Linked DNA regions of Homo sapiens. The protein of the gene in region 1 purifies or fractionates together with the protein of each later gene. This does not show direct contact. Each region holds a gene or a part of one and is shown in the gene's direction. Other genes may lie near its edges.

Region 1 (3,821 bases):
TCAAAGGATGATGCTAAAATTACCGTGATTCTAAGAATCTCAAAAACTCAATTGTATGTGACTGCCCAAGATGAAGACCAACCAGTGCTGCTGAAGGTCAGTTGTCCTTTGTCTCCAACTTACCTTCATTTACATCTCATATGTTTGTAAATAAGCCCAATAGGCAGACACCTCTAACAAGGTGACACTGTCCTCTTTCCTTCCTACCACAGCCCCCACCTGCCCACCCCACTCCCATTGATTCCAGAGGCGTGCCTAGGCAGGCTCTATGAGAAAATATAACAGAGAGTAAGAGGAAAATTACCTTCTTTCTTTTTCCTTTCCCTGCCTGACCTTATTCACCTCCCATCCCAGAGCATCCATTTATTCCATTGATCTTTACTGACATCTATTATCTGACCTACACAATACTAGACATTAGGACAATGTGGCCTGCCTCCAAGAAACTCAAATAAGCCAACTGAGATCAGAGAGGATTAATCACCTGCCAATGGGCACAAAGCAACAAGCTGGGAGCCAAGTCCCAAAATGGGGCCTGCTGCTTCCAGTTCCCCTCTCTCTGCATTGATGTCAGCATTATCCTTCGTCCCAGTCCTGTCTCCACTACCACTTTCCCCCTCAAACACACACACACACAACAGCCTTAGATGTTTTCTCCACTGATAAGTAGGTGACTCAATTTGTAAGTATATAATCCAAGACCTTCTATTCCCAAGTAGAATTTATGTGCCTGCCTGTGCTTTTCTACCTGGATCAAGTGATGTCTACAGAGTAGGGCAGTAGCTTCATTCATGAACTCATTCAACAAGCATTATTCACTGAGAGCCTTCTATTTTTCAGGCATAGTGCCAACAGCAGTGTGGACAGTGGTGCATCAAAGCCTCTAGTCTCATAGAACTTAGTCTTCTGGAGGATATGGAAAACAGACAACCCAAACAACCAACAAAAGAGCAAGATGCTGCAAAAAAAAAAAAAAATGAATAGGGTGCTAAGATAGAGAAAAGTGGGAGAGTGCTATTTAGACAAAGTGGTAAAAACAAAGCCCCTTGTGAGATGAGAGCTGCCGACAGGAGGGGGCGGGTCATGGTTGTGGGTTTTTGGGTAGGACATTCAGAGGAGGGGGCGGGTCGTGGTTGTGGGTTTTTGGGTAGGACATTCAGAGGAGGGGGCGGGTCGTGGTTGTGGGTTTTTGGGTAGGACATTCAGAGGAGGGGGCGGGTCGTGGTTGTGGGTTTTTGGGTAGGACATTCAGAGGAGGGGGCGGGTCGTGGTTGTGGGTTTTTGGGTAGGACATTCAGAGGAGGGGGCGGGTCGTGGTTGTGGGTTTTTGGGTAGGACATTCAGAGGAGGGGGCGGGTCGTGGTTGTGGGTTTTTGGGTAGGACATTCAGAGGAGGGGGCGGGTCGTGGTTGTGGGTTTTTGGGTAGGACATTCAGAGGAGGGGGCGGGTCGTGGTTGTGGGTTTTTGGGTAGGACATTCAGAGGAGGGGGCGGGTCGTGGTTGTGGGTTTTTGGGTAGGACATTCAGAGGAGGGGGCGGGTCGTGGTTGTGGGTTTTTGGGTAGGACATTCAGAGGAGGGGGCGGGTCGTGGTTGTGGGTTTTTGGGTAGGACATTCAGAGGAGGGGGCGGGTCATGGTTGTGGGTTTTTGGGACATTCAGAGGAGTCTGAATGCACCCAGGCCTACAACTTCAAGATGGTAAAGGACAGCTCCAAGGATCAGAAGAAGCATTCTTGGAACTGGGGCATTTTGAGAAGGAGGAAAAATATGCAGAGACTAGTGCTTGCAGAGCTTGCATTTGGATTTCATTTGAGGTACAATGAAAACCCATTAATGGGTTTCACACAGTGCAATGGCCTGACCTCACTTATATTTCCTAAAATAGAAAACAGATCAGAAGGAAGGCAATAGAGAAGCAGAAAGTCCAATGAGGAGGTTTCACAGCAGTCATGGGGGTGGGGTAAGGAAAAGAAGTGGAAAGAAACAGACAGAATTGGGTTATATTTTGGAGATAGAACCAACAGAAGGAAGAGGAGAAACAACATTTACTGAGAAGGGAAAAAGTAGGAGAGGAATAGGTTTGGGAAATAAATCCTGCTGACATTGGAAACCCCAAGGAAGCCTCAAAAGTATATTTACTTGCTTTAGATTTAAAAGAATAGGAAAGAAGCATCTCAACTTGGAATTTGAAATCTATTTTTCCATAAAAGTATTGTTAAATTCTACTCATACTCACAAGAAAAGTACATTCTAAAGAGTATATTGAAAGAGTTTACTGATATACTTAGGAATTTTGTGTGTATGTGTGTGTGTGTATGTGTGTGCGTGTGTTTAACCTTCAATTGTTGACTTAAATACTGAGATAAATGTCATCTAAATGCTAAATTGATTTCCAAAGGTATGATTTGTTCACTTGGAGATCAAAATGTTTAGGGGGCTTAGAATCACTGTAGTGCTCAGATTTGATGCAAAATGTCTTAGGCCTATGTTGAAGGCAGGACAGAAACAATGTTTCCCTCCTACCTGCCTGGATACAGTAAGATACTAGTGTCACTGACAATCTTCATAACTAATTTAGATCTCTCTCCAATCAACTAAGGAAATCAACTCTTATTAATAGACTGGGCCACACATCTACTAGGCATGTAATAAATGCTTGCTGAATGAACAAATGAATGAAGAGCCTATAGCATCATGTTACAGCCATAGTCCTAAAGTGCTGTTTCTCATGAAGGCCAAATGCTAAGGGATTGAGCTTCAGTCCTTTTTCTACCATCTTGTTCTCTAACAGAATTCTCTTCTTTTCTTCATAGGAGATGCCTGAGATACCCAAAACCATCACAGGTAGTGAGACCAACCTCCTCTTCTTCTGGGAAACTCACGGCACTAAGAACTATTTCACATCAGTTGCCCATCCAAACTTGTTTATTGCCACAAAGCAAGACTACTGGGTGTGCTTGGCAGGGGGGCCACCCTCTATCACTGACTTTCAGATACTGGAAAACCAGGCGTAGGTCTGGAGTCTCACTTGTCTCACTTGTGCAGTGTTGACAGTTCATATGTACCATGTACATGAAGAAGCTAAATCCTTTACTGTTAGTCATTTGCTGAGCATGTACTGAGCCTTGTAATTCTAAATGAATGTTTACACTCTTTGTAAGAGTGGAACCAACACTAACATATAATGTTGTTATTTAAAGAACACCCTATATTTTGCATAGTACCAATCATTTTAATTATTATTCTTCATAACAATTTTAGGAGGACCAGAGCTACTGACTATGGCTACCAAAAAGACTCTACCCATATTACAGATGGGCAAATTAAGGCATAAGAAAACTAAGAAATATGCACAATAGCAGTTGAAACAAGAAGCCACAGACCTAGGATTTCATGATTTCATTTCAACTGTTTGCCTTCTACTTTTAAGTTGCTGATGAACTCTTAATCAAATAGCATAAGTTTCTGGGACCTCAGTTTTATCATTTTCAAAATGGAGGGAATAATACCTAAGCCTTCCTGCCGCAACAGTTTTTTATGCTAATCAGGGAGGTCATTTTGGTAAAATACTTCTTGAAGCCGAGCCTCAAGATGAAGGCAAAGCACGAAATGTTATTTTTTAATTATTATTTATATATGTATTTATAAATATATTTAAGATAATTATAATATACTATATTTATGGGAACCCCTTCATCCTCTGAGTGTGACCAGGCATCCTCCACAATAGCAGACAGTGTTTTCTGGGATAAGTAAGTTTGATTTCATTAATACAGGGCATTTTGGTCCAAGTTGTGCTTATCCCATAGCCAGGAAACT
Region 2 (3,821 bases), on another chromosome or scaffold:
CCCTGGAGGAAGTTTTTTCTGGTTAAAAAGAGCTGAGACATTTTGGCAGGACAGTTCAGCTAACTTTAAGTCCTATTCGAAGGCATAGCAAATAATATTTAAGATTGATGGGTGTGCATATGCTGACTTAAATTACAATTTGTAGCTAGGTGTCCTTTAAGAAAAATGTGTTTACTTTTGATACTTTTGTGACATTTTGTTTTTCTTTTTTTGAGAAGGAGTTTTGCTCTTGCTGCCCAGGCTGGAGTGCAATGGCACAATCTTGGCTCACTGCAACCTCCACCTCCTGGGTTCAAGCAATTCTCCTGCCTCAGCCTCCCAAGTAGCTGGGATTAAAGGCATGCAGCACCACGCCCAGCTAATTTTGTATTTTTAGTAATGACGGGGTTTCTCCGTGTTGGTCAGGCTGGTCTTGAACTCCCGACCTCAGTTGATCCACCTGCCTCAGCCTCCCAAAGTGCTGGGATTACAGGCATGAGCTACCGTGCCTGGTCTGACATTTTGTTTTTCTTAATGACACTTGTGTCTACTTGTCTTATCCTTATATGAAATTATTAACTCCTTAGAGATAAGTATTGAGCTTATTCCCCCTGCAGCTCCTGTAACAGAGTTTTGCACATAGCAGGTGCTCATCAAAGATTGGTTGGATAAATTATTGTTAGTAGATAAGAACTTGTAATAGATGAAGTTTTGATAACTCTACAGTGGGTGTCATAATCTCTAAATACTTTGGATTTAGGAAACTAAAAATTGGTCTAATTGTTTTTTGTTTTTGTTTTTTGTTGTTGTTGTTTTTTCTAATTGGTTTTTGATGGACAATTTGATCAGTGAATGTTTTTTTTTTTTTCTGTGAACGTTTTTCATTGCAAGAGTTACTTTGTTTTTGAGTTGCTATTTCATATTGCTTGCCAGGCATTTTCCTTTATTGGCTGTGATGTTAATTTGGATGCTTTACCTTTTGCAACACATTATTTTTAAAGATTATGGTAAAATAGATGTGACTTTTTTTTTTCCTTATCTCTTCTAAAAAAAAACGGGATACATGTGCAGAACGTGCAGGTTTGTTGCATAGGTATACGTGTGCCATGGTGGCTTGCTGCACTTACCGACCGGCCCTCTAAGTTCCCTCCCCTTGCCCCCCACCCCCCGGATGTGACATTTTGAGTTCTAAACTTTTAGAACATGCCCACTTGCCTGGAATGAGTAACAATGCATGACAGTGAGTTGATTAGGCTAAGTACCAGTTTCATTGGTTTTTTAGTCTGTACTTCCTGGAGGAAGGCTGTCAGGTAAATGTGTAGATAGAAGAAAAAAAGTTTTAGAACTGGTTTAAGATATCCGAATAACACATAAAGAAGTATGATTGATGAGTTTGAATCCTGTTGTACTGTGAAGGCTGAAAGAGGAATTTACCTTATTGGTAATTTAGAGTAATTTGATTAATTTTTATAGTTTACAGGGTTGGTTTAAGTACTGACGTGACATTCCTAACATAAGAAATAGCTCACTCCTAATACAAGAAATAACTCAGTATTTTGTAGGTAATGTAACAATGCAAAGACATTAGTTGACATTACTAAAGTCATGAAAGGTTTATTCATTGAAGATTGTTTTCCTTTTATGGAAAAAATGTAAGGATGCCAACTTTTTAGTATAAAATTGAAATCACCTAGTTTTGCTTAAGCTAAAGGCATATCGCTGAATAATGCTTTAATTCATTTTTACTTTTTAAATTTAGACTTACTTCAGCCTATAGGTTTTATGACATTGCCAATATACTGAGAAGGATTGTATAGGAAGTGTTTTCAATAGGCATTTGGTAAGGTTCTGACAGCACTTTGAAATTAAGCATTTGCTAATTTTAAGAAATTATATTTAAAACAGAATGGTTCTTGTGTTGCAGTCTCAGTCTTGTGTGAGACTTCTGAGAATACTTACCTGGAATTTTAAAACTTGGAACCTCTGATAACTTCATGAAACAAAAACCCTGGTGTTACCCTGGGAGAGTTAGTGATTTATGTCCTCTAAGGATTGTGACATTGGAGATCAGTGGCAGAGATGCCATGAATGAACCATAGATTCAAATTCAAGCAGAATTTGTCACTGGTTTGACAATATTATTCCTATCAGTGTCAATATCTTTTCAGTATAATTTCTGATTGCTGCATGCGAGGTACGCAGTGCAGTGGGCATTTTAAGGAGGGCGAGATAATATACCCCATTTAAGGGGATTGATGTGGGCATACACTTCCTGGATGGGCATGTGGAGAGTAAGGAAAGGCAGATTGAGGGAGGGAGGGAGGGAGAGGGAGCGGGAGCGGGAGGGAGCAGCAGGCACTGATAGTAAAGTGTGGGCAGTCTCAAGTAACTCGGTTTAGCAAGAGCCTGAGTGTGTGAATAGGAAATAAACCAAAGCTCCTTTGTATGCTGTGTTGGGCAGTACCTAGAGGATCAGGCTATAGCAACTGTACTTTCCCCCTTTTCTGTAGAATAGGGATTGGGCTGGATTGTGATCCTCAGCCCTTTTTCACTCCTGAACACCCAGAGGAGTTATGTTGTATTCCCAGCAGCACCATGCACAAACATGAAACAGAACCATATCAAATCACAGAGATGCTGTTGAACCACTGGTGTAGCTGTTTCTCCCAAATTGAGAGAATTACTGGGGAAATGGCCTGAAGCTCTCTCTCTTTCACATCTGTTTAATTTTGGGTATTGGGATGATCGGAAGATCTTGAAAGAGTGGGGTATGATTTCAGAGGGATGCCACGAAGTATAGCTTAGATTCTCTTCTGCAGGATGGATTGACAAGGACGAGATAGCTGGTGGGTTTTGTAGCCCTGGATGGAAGATCAGTCCAGGAGGCACTTTAGAGTTCTTCAGGCCTTGACACATAGATGTGTAGAGAGAGGAATGCATTACATATGCCTCCCTAAGAATGGTAGCACTTTCAGTAACAATGGGGAGGTCAAGATTATAAGGGAAATTAATGACATCTGTTTTCAGTTATCAGCACCTCAAGAGGTTAAACATGAGAATTAAACAAAATGAGAGCCAAAAGGGTTATGAAAAAGTTGGGCAATATGATTTGTGAGTAGTAGAGAGGTGTGTCCTAGGTATGCATTAATAAATAGTCTTGCACACAGTTCGTGCTTTTCTATTCTGCTCACCCACGGGCGTGTTTGGAAGTTTGTATTGAAACATGCGTATCACAGGACTGGGGATGTTAAGACCAGGAACTCTGGTCTCTTCTGTTAGGTCCTCCTTTCCTCTTTCCTCAAGACCCTGTGTCTTCCCTTTGACTAAAGACCCTTAATGGTGGAGACATGGGGGTGAGAGACTGGTAGTCATGGTGGGCAAGTAGTATTCTGGGTGACACAGGAGCAAATCCTAGCTGATGCCCTTTTCCCTTCCTGCTCCTTAGCCAGGCTGGAATCCCTCTTCCTGGGAGATCTTCCCTGAGTCCTGTTTTGCACCTTGGTCTTCCTTCTCTTTGAGTGCCTGCTTACGGTGGTTATGATCTCAGCACTAGCTTAATGCTGACACTGATTATTCTAATTTTATTTATTTATTTATGAGACAGAGTCTCACTCTGTCACCCAGGCTGGAGTGCAGTGGCATAATCTCGGTTCACTGCAACCTCCACCTCCTGGGTTCAAGCGATTCTCCTGCCTCAGCCTCCCGAGTAGGGGACTACAGGCGCCTGCCACCACGCCCGTCTAATTTTTGTATTTTTAGTAGAGACAGGGTTTCACCATATTGGCCAGGCTGGTCTCAAACTCCTGACCTTGTGATCCGCCTGCCTCAGCCTCCCAAAGTGC

The links.
Region 2: the proteins of IL1A (region 1) and BPTF purify together in Homo sapiens (affinity purification with mass spectrometry; one large-scale study listed by BioGRID and IntAct). This does not show direct contact.

The regions. Positions count from the first base shown.
Region 1 is NC_000002.12:112,774,262-112,778,082, reverse strand, and holds part of IL1A (interleukin-1 alpha precursor), read left to right. Parts: coding exon 1-96; intron 97-2,815; coding exon 2,816-3,016; 3' UTR 3,017-3,821. UniProt on the Homo sapiens protein: Cytokine constitutively present intracellularly in nearly all resting non-hematopoietic cells that plays an important role in inflammation and bridges the innate and adaptive immune systems.
Region 2 is NC_000017.11:67,828,334-67,832,154, forward strand, and holds part of BPTF (nucleosome-remodeling factor subunit BPTF), read left to right. Parts: intron 1-3,821. UniProt on the Homo sapiens protein: Regulatory subunit of the ATP-dependent NURF-1 and NURF-5 ISWI chromatin remodeling complexes, which form ordered nucleosome arrays on chromatin and facilitate access to DNA during DNA-templated processes such as DNA replication, transcription, and repair.